Regions from separate parts of the Homo sapiens genome. Here region 1 is linked to region 2. Evidence: fine-mapped expression QTL. A gene starts in region 2. The other region holds a variant in brackets. All regions are shown on one strand. Distances are between the middles of the regions. Region 1 overlaps LOC100507053 (a long non-coding RNA gene). Region 2 holds the start of ADH4 (alcohol dehydrogenase 4 (class II), pi polypeptide).

What was found. PIP is the estimated chance that this variant, and not a neighbour inherited with it, causes the effect. A credible set is the group of variants that fine-mapping cannot tell apart.
Region 1: its variant is the best candidate, but not a certain one, in a credible set for the expression of ADH4 in lung (TOPMed, PIP 0.77).

Annotation. Positions count from the first base shown.
Region 1 is chr4:99,243,357-99,248,737 of GRCh38, forward strand. The region is part of intron 4 of LOC100507053 (a long non-coding RNA gene); the gene reads left to right. Among named protein-coding and RNA genes, the nearest start is that of ADH6, 27 kb to the left of the region's middle. The variant C/T (reference allele first, on the strand shown) is at 2,599.
Region 2 is chr4:99,142,091-99,147,447 of GRCh38, forward strand. It overlaps ADH4 (alcohol dehydrogenase 4 (class II), pi polypeptide), which reads right to left and starts at 2,207. Exons shown (of 9, transcript NM_000670.5): 1 at 2,115-2,207; 2 at 589-690. The coding sequence starts at 2,132. The region is part of intron 2 of LOC100507053 (a long non-coding RNA gene); the gene reads left to right. RefSeq lists a promoter at 2,179-2,501.

The sequences.
Region 1 (5,381 bases), 100 kb after region 2:
TTTACATTTAAGTATTAAATTCATCTCAAGTTAATTTTTGTATAAGGTGTAAGTAAGGGGTCCAGTTTCAGTTTTCTGCATATGGCTAGCCAGTTTTTTCAGCACCCTTTATTAAATAGGGAATCCTTTCCCCATTGCTTGTTTTTGTCAGGTTTGTTGATGATCAGATGGTTGTAGATGTGTGGTGTTATTTCTGAGGTCTCTTTTCTGTTCCATTGGTCTATATGTCTGTTTTGGTACCAGTACCATGCTGTTTTGGTTGCTGTAGCCTTGTAGTATAGTTCGAAGTCAGGTAGCATGATGCCTCCAGCTTTGTTCTTTGTGCTTAGGATTGTCTTGGCTATACAGACTCTTTTGTGGTTCCATATAAAATTTAAGGTAGTTTTTCTAATTCTGTGAAGAAAGTCAGTGGAGCTTGATGGGAATAGCATTGAATCTATATATTACTTTGGGCAGTATGACCATTTTCATGATATTGATTCTTCCTATCCATGAGCACAGAATGTTTTTCTATTTGTTTGTGTATTCTCCTATTTCCTTGAGCAGTGATTTGTAGTTCTCCTTGAAGAGGTTCTTCACATCCCCTTTAAGTTGTATTCATAGGTATTTTATTCTGTTTGTAGCAATTGTGAATGGGAGTTCACCCATGATTTGGCTCTTTGTTTGTCTGATATTGATGTATAGGAATGCTTGTGATTTTTGCACAATGATTTTGTATCCAGAAACTTTGCTGAAGTTGCTTATCAGCTTAAGGAGGTTTTGGGCTGAGATGATGGGGCTTTCTAAATATACAATCATGTCATCTGCAAACAGAGACAATTTGACTTCCTTTCTTCCTATTTGAATACATTTTATTTCTTTCTCTTGCCTGATTGCCCTGGCCAGAACTTCCAATACTATGTTAAATAGGAGTGGTGAGAGAGGGCATCCTTGTCCTATGCTGAATTTCAAAGGGAATGCTTCCAGCTTTTGCCCATTCAGTATGATATTGGCTGTGGGTTTGTCATAAATATCTCCTATTTTTTGAGATATATTGTGTTAATATCTAGTTTTTTGAGTGTTTTTAGCATGAAGCGGTGTTGAATTTTATCGAAAGTCTTTTCTGCATCTATTGAGATAATCATGTGGTTTTTGTCATTGGTTCTGTTTATGTGATGGATTACGTTTGTTGATTGGTGTATGTTGAACCAGACTTGCATCCCAGGGATGAAGCTGACTTGATTGTGGTAGATAAGCCTTTTGATGTGTTGCTGGATTTGGTTTGCCAGTATTTTATTGAAGATTTTCACATCGATATTCATCAGGGATATTGGCCTGATATTTTCTTTTTTTTGTTGTTGTGTTTCTGCCAGGTTTTGGTATCAGGATGATGCTGGCCTCATAAGATGAGTTATGGAGGACTCCCTCTTTTTCTATTGTTTGGAATAGTTTTAGAAGGAATGGTATAAGCTTCTCTTTGTACCTCTGGTAGAATTAGGCTGTGAATCTATCTGGACCTGGGTTTTTTTTTGGTTGGTAGAGTATTAATTCCTGCCTCAATTTCTGAAGTTGTTATTGGTCTATTCAGGGATTCAACTTCTTCCTGGTTTAGTGTTTAGGGAGTGTATGTATCCAGGAATGTATCCATTTCTTCCAGGTTTTCTAGTTTATTTGTGTGGTGGTGTTTATATATTCTCTGATGGTAGTTTCTATTTCTGTGGGATCAGTGGTGATTTTCCCTTTATCATTTTTTATCGTGTCTATTGATTCTTCTCTCTTTTCTTCTTTATTAGTCTGGCTGGTGGTCTATCTATTTTGTTGATCTTTTCAAAAAACCAACTCCTGGATTCATTGATTTTTGGAAGGGTTTTTGGTGTCTCTATCTCCTTCAATTCTGCTTTGATCTTAGTTATTTCTTGTCTTCTGCTACGTTTCGAATTTTTTTGCTCTTGCTTCTCTAGTTCTTTTAATTGTGATGATAGGGTGTCATTTTAGATCTTTCCTACTTTCTGCTGTGGGGATTTAGTGCTATAAATTTTCCTCTAAACACTGCTTTAGCTGTATCCCAGAGATTCTGGTATATTGTGTGTTTGCTCTCATTGTTTTTAAAGAACTTATTTATTTCTGCCTTAATTTCATTATTTATCCAGCAGTCATTCAGGAGCAGGTTGTTCAGTTTCCATGTAGTTGTGAGTTCTGAGTGAGTTTCTTAATCCTGAGCTCTAATTTGATTGCACTGTGATCTGAGAGACTGTTATGATTTCTGTTCATTTACATTTGCTGAGGAGTGTTTTACTTCCAATTATGTGGTCAGTTTTAGAATAAGTGCTATGAGGAGCTGAGAAAAACGTATATTTTGTTGTTTTGGGGTGGAGAGTTCTGTAGATGTCTATTAGGTTTGCTTGGTCCAGAGCTGAGTTCAAGTCTGAATATCCTTGTCAATTTTCTGTCTTGTTGATCTGTGTAATATTGATAGTGAGGTGTTAAAATCTCCCAATATTATTGTGTGGGAGTCTAAGTCTCTTTGTAGGTTTGTAAGAACTTGTTTTATGAAACTGGGTGCTCTTATATTGGGTGCATATATATTTAGGATAGTTAGCTCTTCTTGTTGCATTGATC[C/T]GTTTACCATTATGTAATGGCCTTCTTTGTCTTTTTTGATCTTTCTTGTTTTAAAGTCTGTCTTATCGGAGACTAGGATGGCAACCCATGCCTTTTTTGTTTGCTTTCCATTTGCTTGGTAAGTTGTCCTCCATCCCTTTGTTTTGAGCCTATGTCTGTGTTTGCACATGAGATAGGTCTCCTGAATACAGCACACCAATGGGTCTTCACTCTTTATCCAATTTGCCAGTCTGTGTCTTTGAACTGGGAGCATTTAACCTATTTACATTTAAGGTTAATATTATTATGTGTGAGTTTGATCCTGTCATCATGATTCTAGCTGGTTATTTTCCACATTAGTTCATGCAGTTTTGTTCATCTTTATATTTTGGTATGTTTTTACAGTGGCTGGTACCAGTTTTTCCTTTCTATATTTAGTGCTTTCTTCAGGAGTTCTCGTAAGGCAGGCCTGGTGGTGACAAAACCCCTCAGCATTTTCTTGTCTGTAAAGGATTTTATTTTCTTTTGCTTATGAAACTTATTTTGGCTGGATATGAAATTGTGGGTTGAAAATTGTTTTCTTTAAGAATGTTGAATATTGTCCCCCACTCTCTTCTGGCTTCTGCAGAGAGATCTGCTGTTAGTCTGATGGGCTTCCCTTTGTGGGTAACCTGACCTTTCTCTCTGGCTGCCCTTAACATTTTTTCCTTCATTTCAACCTTGGAGAGTCTGATGATTATGTGTCTTGGGGTTGCTCTTCTCGAGGAGTATCTTAGTGGTGTTCTCTGTGTTTCCTGAATTTGAATGTTGGCCAGTCTTGCTAGGTTGGGGAAGTTCTCCTGGATAATATCCTGAAGTGTGTTTTTCAACGTGGTTCCATGCTCCCCTTCACTTTCAGGTGTACCAATCTGTCATAGGTTTGGTCTTTTCACATAGTCCCATATTTCTTGGAGGATTTGTTATTTCCTTTTCCTTCTTTTTTTTTCTCTAATCTTGTCTTCATGCTTTATTTCATTAAGTTGATCTTCAATCTCTGATATCCTTTTTTCTGCTTGATTGATTCAGCTATTGATACTTGTGTATGCTTCACGAAGTTCTCATGCTGTGTTTTTCAGCTCTATTAGGTCATTTCTGTTCTTCTCTAAACTGGTTATTCTAGTGTGCAGTTCCCGTAACCTTTTATCCAGGTTCTTACCTTCCTTTCTTTGGGGCAGAACATGCTTATTTAGCTTGGAGGCGTTTGTTATTACCTACTTTCTGTAGTGTACTTCTGTTCAATTCATCAAACTCATTTTCCATCCAGTTTTGTTCCCTTTCTGGTGAGGAGTTGTGGTCCTTTGGAGGAGAAGAGGCATTCTGGTTTTTGAAATTTTCAGCATTTTTGTGCTTTTTTCCCCTCAGCTTTGTGGATTTATGTACCTTTGATCTTTGATGCTGAGGCACTTTGGATGGGGTTTTTCTGTGGGCATACTTTTCTTTTGATGCTGATGTTTTTGTTTTCTCTTTGTTAGTTTTCCTTCTGTCAGGCCTCTCTGGTGCAGGTCTGCTGGAGTTTGCTGGAGGTCCACTTTAGACACTGTTTGCCTGGATATCACCAGTGGAGGCTGCAGAACAGCAAAGATTGCTGCTTGCTCCTTCCTCTGGAAGATTTGTCCCAGAAGGACACCCACCAGATGCCAGCTGGAGCTCTCCTGTATGAGATGTCTGTCGGCCCCTGCTGGGAGGTGTCTCCTAGTTAGGAGGCACGGGGGTCAGGGACCCATTTAAGGAGTCAGTCTGTTCCTTAGCAGAGCTTGAGCACTGTGCTGGGAGATCTGCTGCTCTCTTCAGAGCCAGTAGGCAGCAATGTTTAAGTCTGCTGAAGCTGCTCCCACAGTTGCCCCTCCCCCCAGCTGCTGTGTCCCAGAGAGATGGGAGTTTTTTCTATAAGCCCCTGACTGGGCCTGCTGCCTTTCTTTCAGAGATGCCCTGCCCATAGAGGTAGTCTGGCTACAGTGGCTTTGCTGTGCTGTGGTGCAGTGGGCTCTGCCCAGTCCGAACTTCCTGGCAGCTTTGTTTACAATGTGAGGGAAAAACCACCTACTCAAGCCTCAGTAATGGCGGACGACCCTCCCCCGACCAAGCTTGAGTGTCCCAGGTTGACTTCAGACTGCTTTCCTGGCAGCAAGAATTTCCAGCCAGTGGATCTTAGCTTGCTGGGCTCCGTGGGAGTGGGACCTGCTAAGCCAGACCACTTGGCTCCCTGGTTTCAGACCCCACGGTTTGTTCCAGGGGAGTGAACGGTTCTGTCTGGCTGGGGTTCCAGGCACCATTGGGTTATGAAAAAAAATCTCCTGCAGCTAGCTCGGTGTCTGCCAAATGGCCACCCAGTTTTGTGCTTGAAACCCAGGGCCCTGGTTGTGTAGGCACCTGAGAAAATCTTCTGGTCTGTGGTTTGCAAAAACCATGGGAAAAGCGTAATGTCTGGGCTGGATAGCACTGTCCCTCATGGCACAGTCCCTCATGGCTTCCCTTGGCTAGGGGAAGGAGTTCTCTGACCCCTTGTGCTTCTCCTTGAGGTGACACCCCACCCTGCTTCTGCTGGCCTTCTGTGGGCTGGACCCACTCTCTAACCAGTCCCAATGAGTTGAACTGGGTACCTCAGTTGGAAATCCAGAAATCACCTGCCTTCTGTGTTTGTCTCGCTGGGAGCTGCAGACGGGAACTGTTCCTATTCGGCCATCTTGCCCAGCTCTCCCCTGCAGTCTATCATTTGAATGTGTTCTGATTTGCTTAATCAGTAATTACCTAGACATAGAATTATT
Region 2 (5,357 bases):
GAATGTCCCATTCACTCTCATGTACAGACTCTTAATGTGGGGGTCCTCAAGGAAAATATAAGCCTGGTCAGCTTGGGAAAAATGGGGAAATTGTCCAAACTTGCCATCAGTGATCTCACTCCATTCCATGCACTCTCTTCTCCCTGTGACCTACTCCTGTCCCTTCCTCTGGATACCCAGGACCCTTCGGCTGCCTAGGGCAGCACGTCAGGTTTTTTCTTCTGTCTTGTTTTCGATCAAATTGTCTATCTTCCTTTTAATAACACTTTCAAATAATTAGCAATTGGAAAGCAAAAAGAAAACCTAACTAATTCAAATCCAAAGTGAATTCCTTTGTCTGATTCTTAGGGTAAATGATTAATGTTAAGATCAATTAAATTTTAAGCCCATTATTTGAAAATTACTAAAATAATGGATGATTTATTCCTTTTTGGGATAATGCCTGTTTTTGACTGAATCTAAAAATACAGCTTCCCTGTACTAGAAACTCCAAGGCCTCTGAATCATAGCACAGAGGATTGACCTGACAGAAGCCAGGTCTCCACTTGGGGCCCTGTCTGTTCCCACCCAAGGAAAGTCTCCACTTACCTGAATGCGAACTTCATGAGCCTTGGGGGGAGCTACTTCAACCTCTTCAATGCAAAGGGGCTTGCCTGCTTCCCAGGCGATGGCTGCTTTGCATTTAATAACCTGAAAGAGAGAAAGAAAAGGAAGAGGGAGATAGAGATAGAGATTTTGACAGGGTTGGGGGTAGGAGAGAGGAGATCATGAGAAAAAATTAGAATATATTGATACTGTAATTTCATGACAAAGAGTTAAAGAGTTTGTAGCTGGATCTTATAGATATTATTTTAAAGACAAGGGATCTTAAAGAAAAATAAGAAGTTAAATTCTACATTATAGTCATTACATTTTTTATTTCTTGAAAAAAAAACAGGTGTATTAAAGTTTACCTTGATATAATGTCTCAAGTTTTTCCCTCTATAACAGAGAGAATAGATTTATGGAGTTTGAATAAGGTAGATGGCCTATAAAAATCTATTGAGTGAACTGTTTGAAATCACCTCTGAATTACCTGAGTCAGATAATTGCTGGAGAATAGATGTGTTTTACATCTCTGCAACTCGAAGTGTGGTCCTCGGACAAGCATTTATTCACATCACTTGGGAATTTGTTAGAGATGAAAGCCCTGCCTCAAATCCACTAAATCAAAATCTGCATTTGAACAATATCCCCAGAGAATTCATTAAAAGTCTGAGAAATGAGGCTTACATCATTATTAAATTTATCTGTAGGATATAAATTAAATAAAAATTTCATCTAATTGTAAGAATTTGGGTAAAGATGAATGAACAGAAATTAAATATTTAGGATTCTATAACCCCAATTTTTTCTAGCCTCAAATTATATTTTTAATTTCAAATATAAGCAACATTGAAAGAAAGTAGAAAGAAACAAACCTATAATCTTCTGTTCTAACACTACTATGCTTACATTTGGTATACTTTTCCCAAAGTCTTTGACCACATTAATGTATATTTTTCAATAGTTACATAATTTTGAATTATGTTTTTGAATATTATTTATTTTGTTTCAAATGAAGTATATATTAATTAACAGGAAGTTTCAAAATGCCAAGGCCTATCAAGTTTTTAAAGACAAAAAATAGAATAAGATTCATCTGTAAGCTCATCACCCACTTTATGCTTTTGATGCAGATTCTTCGAGTATCCCCAAATAAGATACATTGTCCATAGTATTTTGTAATATACTTTTTCTACTATTAATATACTGTGAACATTTTCCCATATTCTCCTGCAACATTATTTGTAACATATGCATATTATATTTTATGGTTACAGCACAGTTACTTAAATCTCTCTTCTTTTGGCCATTTAAATAATATTAATATTAACTGAACACCCTTCTAATAAACATTTTGGCAATCCACAGTTAATTTCCCTAGAATAAATTCCTGGCATAGGGGTCACTCATATCCTTTTGATCAACTGTAAGTCACTGCTTCCTGAGTTCCTGAAGGAAGCTCCTTTTAGCCAAACATACAAGGACACAGAAAAGCACAAACTGAACAAAGATACAGCTTACTTGCTTACTTTGCCCTTGGTGCCCATTTTTCTTTGGGAAACTGTGTTGGAAGTTTCTTTCTGAGTTAAGAAAGCTTCAAACTCCTACCCAGGGAGTTCCGTGTCCTATAATGAGCTGTCTTTGAATAAATACCATTCATGTTGCTTAATTCTCCAATCACTTCCTTTTCTCCTTTGTTGCTGTAATTCACAGCCCTGCCGGCCTCTTACCACATCATTTGTACTATTGGACTTCAGCTGCAAACCTCATTGCTCCCAGTGAGCTCCAAGATTTTTTAAATTCTTTTTTCTTTTATTGAAAAATATAAAATAATAGAGAAAAGCCCATTAAACATATAAAGATGAATTAACAAATAATTATGAAGTAAAGGAAATTTCTACTCCTCAGAATCGCCCATTTAACTTACCTGTTCTTCTCCTTCACAACCCTGATAATCACTTCCTTGCATATTTAGTGGTTTACTACCTATTTAAGCTTCTCTATCCAATAGTTTAATCTAGCAAAGCCTTTTTATGAATGGAATCATAGTGTATGTATTGTTTCATGTCTTTTTTCTCCCCTCTACTCTATGTGAGAATCATTCACATTGCCTGTGGCTGTAGCTTATTTTCATTACTCTAGAATATTCCAGTGTATGAATTGAACATAATTTATTCATCCATTTTCCTTTTTGCTGTTTTTTTTCCTCTTTGCTTATGATGAATTAGTGGTTACATACAAATTCTTTTCATGTACTTGGTTGCACATATGCTTGAGTTGCCTTAAAGAAAATTCAGAGCTGATATTCAGCCAGTACCCACTATGAAGGCCATGCCAATTATCAAAATATTGAAGTATTTTTATTCAGCTTGGTAAAAAGTCACTATCCCAAATCCCCAAGTTCCCCTTCAACTCTGTTGCAGCCCTGGGGGCCCCTATTTAGTCACTGCTAAGGAGCTACTCTTTTTGTCCCACCTGATGTGTGAGTCCATCAACCAGCCCTGATGGTTCTGGGTCTCTGGCTGTCCCCCTAAAACAGAGTAGTCCCTGGAACCCCAGTAGATAAATACCTAGTGTCCATCTGACCTCCTGTGGCTGTGGCCTCCAGTGCTGTGGGTCAGAACTCCCCTGGAGTCACATGTATATGGCCATTTGTGAGAAATGGAGTTTCCTTTCTGTACTGGTTGTTAAATATTTTTTGACTAGGAGTGGAATTAAAGTCTTCAACTTTAATAGGCAAGGCCAAGGAATTTCACAGAATGGCTTCACCTACCAGCAGCAGTGTATGAGAGTCCTCGTTGCTCCACATCCTCACCCATGCTTGGAATTGGCAGACTTTAAAAATCTTCTTAATCTGGTCGTGTGTAAAGATATCTAATTCTGTTTTTAATTTGTATTGATCTGATTATTAATAAGGATAAGCACCAGTCCTGTACTGGAGTCAGCTCATACTGATTTTGTTGTGCTTATTCTATTAACTACTGAGAGATGTTTAGAAATCATTATGATTACTCTAATTATCATTACACGTTGTATGTGTGTACTGAAGTATCATAGGTACTTCACAAATATGTACAATTCTTTCTGTACATATTAAAATTAAAAATAAAAATGAATAAATAACAATAAAATTATTTTAAATAATAACTAAAAATAAAAAGAAACAAAAATACATCATTATTATGAGTTTGTTAATTTCTGAGAGTACTTTTTTTTACTTTACATATCTTGAAGCTTGATATTACGTGCATGCAAGTATTCTGTGTTCCATGTGTTTTAAGAAATTTAATGACATTTTTACTATCTTTCCCTGGCAGTGTGTTTTCATTATCTACATTATTTCTTTTAATAGTCCCCTAGTATTCCACCATCTCTTAAATATTTCAGTTGTTCTATTAAACTTTTAGAAAGCGTAATTTATACTCGTTTCCACTTTTTCACTAACCACATTTCACTCAACTTGTTTGATTTCCATCTCCTTGTTCTATTGAAACTGTTTTCCCCAATGCAATGCATGAGTTTTTTTTAGTTTGCTCTGATTGGAACATCTACTGTGGCCAACTAACCCCTTATATTTCCTTAAGGTGTGTCTCCAGGTTCCTATCTTGCATCCCCACTCTTTCTATTTGGATATGGTCTTTTCCCTTTTTGAATCTCTGTAGCACTCGTGTTTGCATGACTCTTCAGGCTTATACATAAATAGGCAAATGAAGCAAAGTAAGTTTTGCTTCATTTTGTCTCATGTTCTGTTACTTGTGCCTTTTTTGACAACCTGTTTCCTACCTGTAGCCTCCTTAACTGTAGAGATTGTATTTTATTTACATTTCATATCCTGAAGAGTATACTTCAGAGCCCCGAAAAAATACTAGGTGATTACTAAATGCTGGTCAAATTGAATAATGACCTTGGAAACACAATTGGAATTAACACTCTTTTCTGAATGCTTGATATCTGTCTTTTCTTGGTCTTTCCTTCTGTGCTGCACTTTGATAAACTTCTTTGAAGGTAAAGATGGTCTTTTCCTTTCTATAAATATCAAAGGATCTGCTGAGAATTGTTTTGAGAGGAGAAGGGAGAAGAGGTTTCAGAATAGTAAATCCTGGGCATTTGAATGTGAGGGCTTCTCCTAATGGAAAAAAAGAAAATCATGGATTCTTCTTATGAGAATGGTTTTACCTTTTGTGACTTTTCATTTTTGGGCTTCTAGATGTTTTCAAAATTCCCAATGTTATATATACCTTTAGAAATATAATTTCTCTCCCATTATATTAGCATAAATAATAATATTTTATAATATTCCATCATTCTCAACTTGAATACCCAAATAGCACATTTGAAACCCAAGATGTTTCAAATTGAACTCATTGGGTTTCTGCACCAACCACTCCTTTTTTTTGTTTTTTTGTTTTTTTTTTGAGATGGAGTCTTGCTCTGTCACCCAGGCTGGAGTGCAGTGGTGTTATTTCGGCTCATTGCAAGCTGCGCCTCCTGGGTTCACACCATTCTCCTGCCTCAGCCTCCCGAGTAGCTGGGACTACAGGTGCCCGCCACCATGCCCAGCTTTTTTTTTTTTTTTTTTGTATTTTTAGTAGAGACGGGGTTTCACCTTGTGTTAGCCAGGATGGCCTTGATCTCCTGACCTCGTGATCTGCCTGCCTCGGCCTCCCAAAGTGCTGGGATTACAGGCGTGAGCCACTGTGCCCAGCCTCTTTTCTCCTTATTTTTAAAATAATTGTTTATTTTCTACATCTAATGACATCTCTCCTAGATTC